Homo sapiens: one gene and its partners. The protein of the gene in region 3 interacts with the protein of the main gene of each other region in a biochemical or structural test. Each region holds a gene or a part of one and is shown on either strand. Other genes may lie near its edges.

Region 1 (3,821 bases), on a different chromosome or scaffold from region 3:
CACCCCGCATCCCCATGCCCCGAGTGTGAATAGTAGGATATACTGTGTGTGAATGGTGAATGGTGAATGGTGGCCGCCCAGCGTGTGAATGTGTGGGAATGATGGCTGCCCCACGTGTGAATGCGTATGAACAGTGGTCACCCGGCGTGTGAATGTGTGGGAACAGTGGCCGCCCCGCCTGGGAATGGTGAATGGTGGCCGCCCCGCCTGTGAATGGTGAATGGTGGCCGCCCCGCCTGTGAATGGTGAATGGTGGCCGCCCCGCCTGTGAATGGTGAATGGTGGCCGCTCTGCCTGTGAATGGTGAATGGTGGTCGCCCTGTGTGTGAATGGTGAATGGCGGCCGCCCTGCCTGTGAATGGTGAATGGTGGCCGCCCCGCCTGTGAATGGTGAATGGTGGCCGCCCCGCCTGTGAATGGTGAATGGTGGCCGCTCTGCCTGTGAATGGTGAATGGTGGCCGCTCTGCCTGTGAATGGTGAATGGTGGTCACCCTGTGTGTGAATGGTGAACGGTGGCCGCCCCGCCTGTGAAAAGTGAATGGTGGACGCCCCGCATGTGAAGAGTGAAGAGTGGATGTACCGATTCTGTACAGAGATAGCTGCTTACATCCTCCGCCTCTTCTTTGGGTTCACGGCGGGCGATGATGGCCTCGGACTTCACTCTGTGGGAAGGGGAAGGAGGCAGGGAGGGTGAGGGCCTCCCAGGGGCCTCGGGAACACATAGCGGGCAGTGCCCGCCCCGAACCTGTGTCCTTGCCTCTGTGCAGGGCTGGGGGCTCTCCCCACAGGGACCCCTTCAGCAGCCGTTTGGTTCAGGGCCCTGAACGCTTCTTCCAGTTCCCTGGGGACAGGTGGCCCTGAGCCACTGCTGCATGAGTGCTCTGAAGCCCAGCCGTCCATCCTGGCTGCCCGGGAATGCGGAGGGGGAGCAAAGCAGAGGGGCCCTGGCTTTGGCAAACCCAGAGCAGATCTGGGTCCCTTCTTAGGCAGAGGCATGGTCTCGGAGCGCCCACACCTCCTCTGTCCATCAGAGAAGGGCTGGAGCCCCAACATACAGCTCTCCGGGGGCCGTGGCCAAACCTTGGCTGATCAAAGGGCTGGAGGAGTGGGATGGTGGGAGCTGTGCAGAGAAGGAACGCGTGAGACAGGCCCAGCGTGTGCTGTAGGAGGCTCAGGAGGAGACCACGGCCCCACTCTGCTGGTTGGGGTGGAGTGGCTGTGAGCTGGAGCTGGAGGTAGGTAGGCTATGCACAGAGCCGCTCAGGCTGGAGAGCAGGCACTGGAGGAGGCAGCCACTCCAGAGCCCTGAGGCCGGGGTCCCTCTCTGACCAGCTTTCCATGCCCTGCCCTCACCTTTTCAGTTCCTCTTCCAGCTCCTTGATACGGTTTTCCAGCTTGACTTTGGCCTGCTTAGCAGCCTCCAACTCGCCCCTCAGCACCTCCTGCTCCCCGGACAGCTGGTCGACCTTGGCAATCAGGTCATTCTTCACCACATTCAAGGCGTTTCTTTGAAAAAGCAGAAAGATGGGAGTGCCACGGGCGCGGCATACAGGTACGTGAAGGGGCCTTGCCAGGGGCGCCTGCACTTCCGCCCTGGAGAAGGCACAGCCTGGTTAGGAAGGTGGCTGAATGGGAGACCCCATCCCCATCTTAGCTAAACCCTATAGCACCCTTGTTAGAGGCTCCTGGAGACAAGCTTCGTAAAGAAACCAGGCAGAGTCCTGCTCCAAGTTCCTCCCGCCAGAGATGAGGACAGCTGCTGGCGTTGGAGCCAGGTGCTCCCCAAGGCGCCCTCTGGCCCGGCTCACTCTCCCAGCCCTGACAAGGAGGGCTGCCTCAGCCCCACCACACAGGAGAAGGGCACTCTTACTTGGTTTCCAGAAGCTGTGAGTTTTCCAGTAGCAGATTCCCCACTTCTTTGCCCATTCCTGAAACAGAAGGTGCGGAGGTTTCACCTGTGCCCTTCAAAACAGGTCACTGATGCCGCCGCACCTGCCTCAGGGCAACAACGCTTCCAAAGAGGGTAGCCTGGCTGGGGATGACGCCCGATCTACAGGGAGCGGGGGCCGTGAAGGGCGGGGCTCATGCTGGGCCCGCAGTCTGTGCACAGAGCAGGCTCCCAGGCCTTGGGGTGGTTCTCATGTCCGACCAATGTCACAGGCCAGCTGGCCGGACGCAGGCCCCTGAATGGCCGCTGGGCTGCCATCTCAGTGCCCCCAGCAGGTCTGTCACCAGGCAGGCCCTCTCGGAGCCACCACCCTAGGCGAGTGATGTTGGAGCTGCGGTGAGGGGACAGGTGGGCAAGGAGAGGCCTGGCCCTCACGGCAGGGCCAGCAGGGCTGGGGTGCGGCGATGGGGCGCGGCTGTGAGGACAGGGCTCCCTGGCAGGACTGAAGGCTCCTCTACCACGAGGCCCCAAGTGGACCTGGACTGATCTCCCTGCAAGCATGCCCCAGAAACCCCAAAAGGATGGAAAGAAACTCCAAGGTCCTGCCCTCCCACACACTCCCCCACTGTGTATGCAGTCATGAAACAGCATCACACGCCTCTGTGCCTGGGCTCAGGGGTCCTGCCTGCTGTCTCTATTATGACCTCCCTTGCCTCAAACATGGGCCTTCCTCCCCACAGGCAGGGTCTGCCCGGCGCTTGTGGGGTTCAGAGAGGCTGGGGCTGCCCTCCTCGGGCCTTCAAGTCTGTCCCTTGGGGAAGTCGCCACCTCCCACAGCCCAGAGGCAGCCTGGACAGAGCGAGCTTCACTCAGGGCTGCCCCCCTGACCCCGGCGGCCCCAACACTGTCCCCATCATGCAGAACAAAGCAAACGGCTCATGAAGCAGGAGACCATGTCGGGGTGGAGGAGCGACGCACGCTGGAACGGGGCCTCAGCCTTACCAAAGAAATCATCGCGCACTAGGGAGCCGTCCCCGTCCCACAGGAGATGGGCAACCAGGGCGGGAGGAGAGGGAGAAAGGGAGAGAAGAGAAGCGCGTTAAGCCCGTGTGGACAGCAGGCTGGGAGGAATTCAGAGCTGGGTCTGCTGGGTTAGGGTGGGTGCAGGAGGGAGTTAGGAGGGCAGGAGATGGGATGGAGCCAGCTATTCCTTCTGGAAAGTTTATCCTTGGGGTTACATGAAGACTGCCAGGCCAGTGTCACCTGTGGAGCAGGAAGCTAACATCTCACCCCAAATTCTGGGCTGGGTGGGGCTGAGGGCAGAAGGCACCCCTGTGGGGATGGGCTGTGCCTGGAGGCTGGGGGGCTGCATCTGGACAGCCTCTGGGTGGGGCCTCGGAGCCTCCTGCTGTGCAGCCAGAGAGCAGGACTCGGCCTGTCCACCCACGTGGGGAGGGGACCCCGGGCTGGGCTTCGTAGGGGCTTCAAGGACCCCTGACTTCTGGGGTGTGCCTGACAGCAGGGGAGGCCCCAGAGCTGGCCTTGGCCATGTCCAGTCACTGCCGTGCGTGGCTTAGGGCTCCGCAGGGCCTTCAGAAATGGCCCGCGGGGGACTCCTCAGGCTGGGGGGGTTGGATATCCAGGTCATTGTCAAGTGGCTGGTGGAGCAAACCGAACAAGCTTCCGAGCGGCGGTGGCTGCGAGCAGAAGCAGAGGCGCTGCGGCGACGTGGGGGGCAGTCCACACAGCCACGGTGACGGGATAGCTCGGGGCATCCCCCGTCCACCCACTCCCCCCGTCACACAGAGGGGAGACAGACAGGAGAGTGAGATACTCACCTGAGAACTCCCCTGGCGAGTCCAGCGACGCACAGAGAGGCAGGGGAAGGAAGGGACAAAGGTCAATTAGGGACTGGAACTAACAATACATTCT
Region 2 (3,821 bases), on a different chromosome or scaffold from region 3:
GTATTTTATTTGAGACCAGGTCTCCTTCTGTCACTCAGGCCGGAGTGTAGTGACGCTATCAAGGCTCACTGTAGCCTCAACCTCCAGCGCTCAATCGATCGATCCTCCCACCTCAGCCTCCTGAGCAGCTGGGAACTACATGCTCACACCATCACACCTGGCCAATTTTTTTTTGTAGAGTTGGGGTCTTGCTATGTTGCCCAGGCTGTATATTATTTCAGTCCCAACAACACCATGGGGCTAGTATCCCAGCACACTATTAAGAGAAACAGATAAGGCTGGGATTCCAACCCTGGCACTGAGTCCCCTCTCAACGACACCCTTACATTGTCTGTCCGGAATCACAGCGTTTCTGGATTTGGTGATCAGGAGGTTACCTGGAGCCTGCTGAAGTGAAATCTGCATTAACTGTACGTTTCAAAGTGCAAAGAAAAGGAGAAAGCCAAGGTGATGAGAGGCGGGCAGGGAGCAGGAAAAGGGAGGCTGTGTTAGATGGGCACTACATATTTAAACATCCAAAAAAATTAAATTCTGTGAACATCCAAAACAATGTAAGGTCGGGGCAGTTTATTTTACGCTGTTGCCCGGAGCTTCATAACCAACTAGCAGTGGCGTCTGCAAATCTAGTTTCTTCACTTTCGGCAGCCCCAGCCGTGGGCGTGGGAGGTCAAAGACCAAAACTAAACCGTTGCCCTCCAGCGTACCGGCTGGACGCTCTCGACCCATTTAACAAAGGAGAAATCGGCCGGCGCGCTCATCGCCAGTTACATAATGCGTCACAGGCTCTCGGGTGAGGCTTCAGCCCTCCAAAACCAGGCCTAAAATGCTGAGGCCCTAGGGGAAGCTCTGGGGGCGTCCGGGCAGCCACAGCCTACTCTGTCCCGGCGACGTCCCTCTCCAGCGCCCTGGCCTGTGGGGGGAGAGGGGGATCCGGCCTGTTTCCGAACCTAGGTCCCTCTTGGGTCTGAAGCCCGGGAAAAGTGAATGAATTTCTGCCGCAGGCCGAACCTGCCTGGCCACGCCACAGGCCGGGTTCCCGGTGCTCGGGGTGGCCCCCAGGCATGGGACATGGACCCCGGGACCTCTGGCCTGGGGGGGCCTCGACACACGCAGGCTGAACCTCCCCACCGCCCCTGGCCCTGTCTCCGCTGGGTCCCACCCAGGAGGCCGGCACAGGCCTCCGCGCCGTGCCGCTCGCTGCACGCCCGCCGCCCGGTGTACCTGGGTGGGCGTCAGCACTTTGCCCAGCTCGTCCACCGCCGCCCCGGCGTAGGTGACATGCAGCGGGTGCTGCGGCTGCTCGTCCACTTCTTGCAGGCTCAAGGGCCCGGACCACTTGCTGAGGTCCACCGGCATGGCGAGGCCAAGCAGAGCGTGCAGCCGGGAGTGCCGCGGTAGGCCAGGCGCGGGCGACAGAGGCGACGCGGAGAGCTCAGCACACTGGCTCGGGAAGACGCAGACCCAGCGACCACGCGAGAGCACGCGCCTCAGCCGCCGCCCAGCCCCGCGCACCGCCCCACGTCACGCCCACCGCTCCCTGGCCTCTGATTGGCCGAAGCTGGCAGAGCAGGGCCTCTCGCGCTCCTGGGTCCATGCAACCTGCTCCCTGTGGCTGCCGAGTTCTCGGGAACAGCGGCTCGGCCTGCAAGGCTGTTGTTTCAAGAAATGAAAATGAAGGGCGCCCTGGAATAGGTTCGCCGAAGAGAGAGGTTCGTGTCTCAGAAAGTGTCGCTGGGAAAAAAAAATGCAATTGAATTCGCCTTGGTTGCGTTTTGGTTTTCTTAATTTTTTGCATGATTCTTTGCTCCACTTTCCAAATTCAGCAACATGGCCTGTCGCGGTGGCTCATGCCTGTATTCCCAGCACTTTGGGAGGCCAAAGCAGGAAGATCGCTTGAGCCCAGGAGTTTGAGACCATCCTGGACAAGGTAGCAAGACCCCGTCTTTACAGAAAACTTAAAAAAAAAGAAAAAAAGAAAAAAGCCAGACACAGTGGTGCATGCTTGTAGTCCTAGCTACTCCGGAGGCTGGGGCGGGAGGATCACTTTTTTTTTTTTTTTTTTTTGAGACGGAGTCTCTCTGTGTTGACCAGGCTGGAGTGCAGTGGCGTGATCTCGGCTCACTGCAAGCTGCGCCTCCCGGGTTCACGCCATTCTCCTGCTTCAGCCTCCCGAGTAGCTGTGACTACAGGCGCCCGCCACCACGCCCGGCTAATTTTTTGTATTTTTAGTAGAGACGGGATTTCACCGTGTTAGCCACGATGATCTTGATCTCCTGACCTCGGCCTCTCAAAGTGCTGGGATTACAGGCGTGAACCACCACGCCCGGCCGATCACTTCTTGAATCTAGGAGTTTGAGGCCGCGGTGAGCTACGATCTTGCCACTGCACTCCTGTCTGCGCTTCAGAGCCAGATCCCATCTTCTCATACACACACACACACACACACACACACACACACACACACACAGCAAATTCAGAAACAGTAAGGCCTTGCTTTTCTCCTGCACTTTAAAACGAGCCAGATTCTCTGTATTTTCGCACGTGATCACTTGTCATAGTAATTGCCTGGTGAGAGCACCTGAGTGAACTTTTGAGCATTTAAATATATGGGGAAATGTATTTGTCCGTTTTCTCCACACACAAAATTCGTCCTCACAAAATTCCTGAGAAATGTTTGGGTTTTGGTTTTTTATGTTTGTTTTTTGAAAAACAATTTTAAACCATATTTATTCATACCAAAACTGCTCTTACTGTGACCACAAGCTGCTTGCTTTTTGCTGAATATGATAAGCACTATTTTTTTTTTTTTTTTTTGAGACGGAGTCTTGCTCTGTCGCCCAGGCTGGAGTGCAGTGGCGTGATCTCAGCTCACTGCAACCTCTGCCTCCCGGGTTCAAGCAATTCTCCTGTCTCAGCCTCCCGAGTAGCTGGGATTACAGGCAGGCGGCACCGCGCCCAGCTAATTTTTGTATTTTTAGTAGAGACAGAGTTTCACCATGTTGGCCAGGCTGGTCTCGAACTCCTGACCTCATGATTCGCCTGCCTCAGCCTCCCAAACTGCTGGGATTACAGGCAATAAGCCACCGCGCCCAGCCAATAAGCACTATTTAACAGTTCTTATCTGTTTTGACTCTTGACATTGATAATTCCTCCCATGGAATAAAAAGTTGTCTCTTGATTTACATTCTTACTAGGAAATAATACGAGTTCATTGTAGAAAATCAAAGAAAAAAACCCAAAGAAGTAGAAATCCCCTTCTATCCCACTACTTTGTTATAAACGTCAGTAATCATTTAGGGTATATCTTTCCTATTTAAAAATAATATGAGTATAGATGATTTTGTTGTTTATTCACCAAAAGATTGCATTATATCCTACCATTATAAAATAGTCATATCAAAAATAGGTCGTCAGGCCAGGTGCGGTTGCTGAGGCCTCTAATCCTAGCACTTTGGGAGGCTGAGGCAGGAGGATCACTTGAGTCCAGGAGTTTGAGACCAGCCGGGACAACATGGTGAAACCCCATCTCTACAACAAAATACAAAAATTAGCCCGGTATGGAGGGATGTGCCGGTAGTCACAGCTACTACCAAGGCTGAGGCAGGAGGATCACTTGAGCCTGGGAGTTTGAGGCTGCAGTGAGCCGTGATTGTGCCACTGCACTCCAGCCTGGGCGACAGAGTGAGACCCTATCTCTACAAAAATAAAGCAAAATAAAAAAAGTCTTCAACATTTTAATGACTTCTCTAGATGCACCATCATTTATTCAACAAGCCTCTTGATGTACTCTGTTTTGTTCATTGTTTTCCTTTTACAAATAT
Region 3 (3,600 bases):
CCGGGACTTACAAGCTAAAAGATCCTGAATATCAGCCTCATCTATAAAATGGGGCTGCTGCTGGGCCGGGACGCAGTGGCTCACACCTGTAATCCCAGCACTTTGGGAGGCTGAGGCAGGCGGATCACATGAGATCAGGAGTTCGAGACCAGCCTGGCCAACATAGTGAAACCCCATCTCTACTAAAAATACAAAAATTAGCTGGACATGGTGGTGCATGCCTGTAATCCCAGCTACTTGGGAGGCTGAGGCAGGAGAATCACTTGAACCCGGGAGGCAGAGGTTGCAGTGAGCCAAGATCGCACCACTGCACTCCAGCCTGGGCAAGAAGAGCGAAAACTCCATGTCGGAAGAAAAAAAGGTGGGGGGGGGTGGTGGCTGATGATGATGAAAATGACAGTAACAATGATATAAGAAAACTCTACTTAGGATTACTAAGAAGATCAAATCAAATGAAAATGTACAGCCAGGCGCGGTGGCTCATGCCTGTAACCCCAGCACTTTGGGAGGCCGAGGTGGGTGGATCACAAGGTCAGGAGATCGAGACCATCCTGGCTAACACGGTGAAACCCCGTCTCTACTAAAAATACAAAAAAATTAGCCGGGCGTGGTGGCACACGCCTGTAGTTCCAGCTACTCGGGAGGATGAGGCAGGAGAATGGAGTGAACCTGGGAGGCAGGGCTTGCAGTAAGCCGAGATTGCACCACTGCACTCCAGCCTGGGTGACACAGTGAGACTCCGTCTCAAAAAAAAAAAAAAAAAGAAAATGTATGTCAAATGTTGTAAAATGCAATACAAATATTGGTTGATATTGGTGGGAAAAGCCAAAGAGAAAAAAAGTATACAGTGCTATACAAAAGCATTATTTTTAATGAGCATTATTTGAAATAGCACATGTATTTCAAGAACCCTACCGAAAAAATCTTTATTCTGCCCATAGTATATTCACGTAGACATTAACTTCTCCAGTAGCATTTTTCACTAACTCCAACACTGGACTATTTCGTAACTGACCATATAACCACAAAAACCCCAACCATTAAACCCTTGATTAGTAACTCCCAGGGCCTGTTAATGGATTTTGAACTTGAGAGTTGGCAGTCAAATGGCCCAGGATGCCAGCTGCTCAGTTATTAGACATTTAGGGAAGAAGCAATGAGGAGATGACAGAGAAAGAGAGTTCCACTGTGGGTCACTGGAGGGGAGGGGTGGGGATGTGGGTCAGTGCCAGGTGAGTGATGTTGACAGTGGCTGGAGTCACAGTGGGGGGTAGGTGCCAGCAAGAAGGAATGAGGATGTGTTCACACTGGGATCTGGGCACAGGTGCCAAATCCTCCCCAAGAGGCAAATGAGGGTGTGCTGTGCAAAGGGCGTCTGCCTGGCAAGGGGGCAGCTAGCTTTCAATCCTGGCTCAGCAAGGTTAAGTAGGCAGGTTGCTTAACCTCCCTGAATCTAGACTTCCTCACCTCTAAAATGGGAACAATAATCTTTATTTCCTGGGACAACCACATGGATCAAATGAGACCTTCCAGGGACATGACATGTGCTTTGACAGAGAACACATAAAATGCTTTGTACAAGTTAAGATCTGAGCCTCTGCGCCTGTCCCCCTCTCCACGCGGGCCTGCACTCCCCGCCACTTCTGTAAAGACTGCCTACTCACTCCAACGCTCCTCCACTTTGCCGCACTTCAGCACTGGCCCAGACTCACGTTTCCACCTTTCCAAATCATTCTCAGAAATGTTTTATCCATGTACCCTCCCACTCAGCCAACTAAACATCTACCCACTTGCCAAGCATTCCCTGAACACCTACCACATGCCAGGCCCCATGCCAGGCACTAGGGACAAGAGAGACACCTTGTCCCTGTCCCCAAGGAACCGGTGGTATGGAGGAGGGAAGAAAACACGCTGGTGCTGCCATAGTGTGAGGATGGCCCCACACAATGCTCTGGTGACAGTGTGAGCCAGCAGAGCCAGGAGCAGGAGGAAATACCCTCAACACAGGGTGTTGGCTGAAGTGGAGCAGAGACTCTGGCGAGGGGTCCAGGTATGCTGCAGTTAGAAGGAGGGGTACATGTCTGACAGACATAGTGAGGAGGGAGAAAAGAGGCTGGACAATTCTGAACAGACTCTCAGGAGTTGGGAGCTACAAGATACTGAAAGGACGGGCTGCTGAGAAGGCAGGTTAAGAGCCAATGCTCAGGTTTCTACCTTGGGAAACCAGGGAGATGATGCTGTCTATTTACTGCTAAGAGAAAAGGAGAAGGTGAGGTAGTTTGGGGTGGATTATATCTGAGCATCCTGGGTTTGTGGATCTGAAGACTATCATGTAGAGATGCCCAGAGGGGAGCTGGAGCTCACAATCCTTCAGAAAGAAAGCCACACTCTGGAGCTGGACAGTCCTTTCAGTGAGTCAAGGCCCCAATATCCCAGTTATGCTCCAAGGCCTAAGAAAGACCAAGACCATCTTCCCATTCAACTTCATCTCCTCAGGGCAGAGCACTGTGCCTCCTCCCTCACTTCTTGTCCCCTACCCAGCACAAGACTCTGGCTCCACAGGAAAGGCACCCACTGGGCTCCTCTCCCTGACCGTACAAGAAGCTCAAGCAATGGAAACTTCTGTTCATACCGACATGTAGGACCTTGTGCCCACGAAGGAGTTGGCCATGGAGTCGATGAGCTGCCCGCTGACCCCAAAGTCACAGAGCTTGATCTCCCCACGGGAGTTGACTAGGATGTTGGAGGGCTTGACATCTGCAGGGAAGAGAAAATAGAAAAGGAGGGAACTGACACAGGTAGATTGGGGAAGAGAAGGATCAGCATTCCACACAGACCAGCCCTGACCACGAGTCCCAGGACCACACCCCCGTCCGCCATCAGAGGCAGCCCTTGGCTTGCAAACACTGTACACCAAGGCCCTTTGTTCTGAGTTCAAGAAGCAACTGTCAGGAGATGAAATGAGCAGCTGCTGTAGAAGTAGAACAGAAAGACAGTCGATTTCCACTCTCTAAGAATGCAGACTTGGCCAGATGATCCACAGGAAGGAGTCCGTTATCATGAACAGTCAGGATTTCAAAGTCTGTTGCTTCAACCACCCCTACTGGTAAGATATAGTATCTATGGCTGGATCATGAAGGAGGCAGAAAAAAACAAGTAATAAGACCTATCTGCTTGCTGAGGCTACACAGGCTAGAAGGGGACAGGGTTTGGCGGGAATTCCCATTCTAGACTTCTGCACCAGGCATGGAGCATGTGGGTCTTTTTCTTACAAATATGTGTGGCAGGGTGGGAGCTGAGTCATGATTCCATTCCATTCCACTGGAGTCACTCACCTAACAGCCTACACAGGTACATCTACCCTGCCAGTCAAGGGGAACCCCTTGCTACCTGGAGCTGGAATGTGAGAGGCCTTAAAGCTGCTCCTCAGAGTCAAAACGATGCCCCCATCCCCCTTCCTTGCACTCTTATTATCACCCCATCCCACCCATCCGGTCACTGTCACAAATACCAGTACATTGGCCCTTAGTTTGCAGAGACCTAAATTTCCAAACATTTTTTCTTCCGCTGTATCCTCTGATTCATACAACTGTCCTGTAA

What was found.
Region 1: the proteins of MAP2K1 (region 3) and MAPK8IP3 form a complex in vitro, tested with the Homo sapiens proteins (one study listed by BioGRID).
Region 2: the proteins of MAP2K1 (region 3) and PEBP1 form a complex in vitro, tested with the Homo sapiens proteins (one study listed by BioGRID).

The regions. Positions count from the first base shown.
Region 1 is NC_000016.10:1,758,066-1,761,886, reverse strand, and holds part of MAPK8IP3 (C-Jun-amino-terminal kinase-interacting protein 3), read right to left. Parts: intron 3,740-3,821; coding exon 3,728-3,739; intron 2,910-3,727; coding exon 2,892-2,909; intron 1,930-2,891; coding exon 1,872-1,929; intron 1,508-1,871; coding exon 1,355-1,507; intron 664-1,354; coding exon 582-663; intron 1-581.
Region 2 is NC_000012.12:118,133,745-118,137,565, reverse strand, and holds the start of PEBP1 (phosphatidylethanolamine-binding protein 1), read right to left. Parts: upstream 1,443-3,821; 5' UTR 1,357-1,442; coding exon 1,222-1,356; intron 1-1,221.
Region 3 is NC_000015.10:66,480,912-66,484,511, reverse strand, and holds part of MAP2K1 (dual specificity mitogen-activated protein kinase kinase 1), read right to left. Parts: intron 2,758-3,600; coding exon 2,633-2,757; intron 1-2,632. UniProt on the Homo sapiens protein: Dual specificity protein kinase which acts as an essential component of the MAP kinase signal transduction pathway.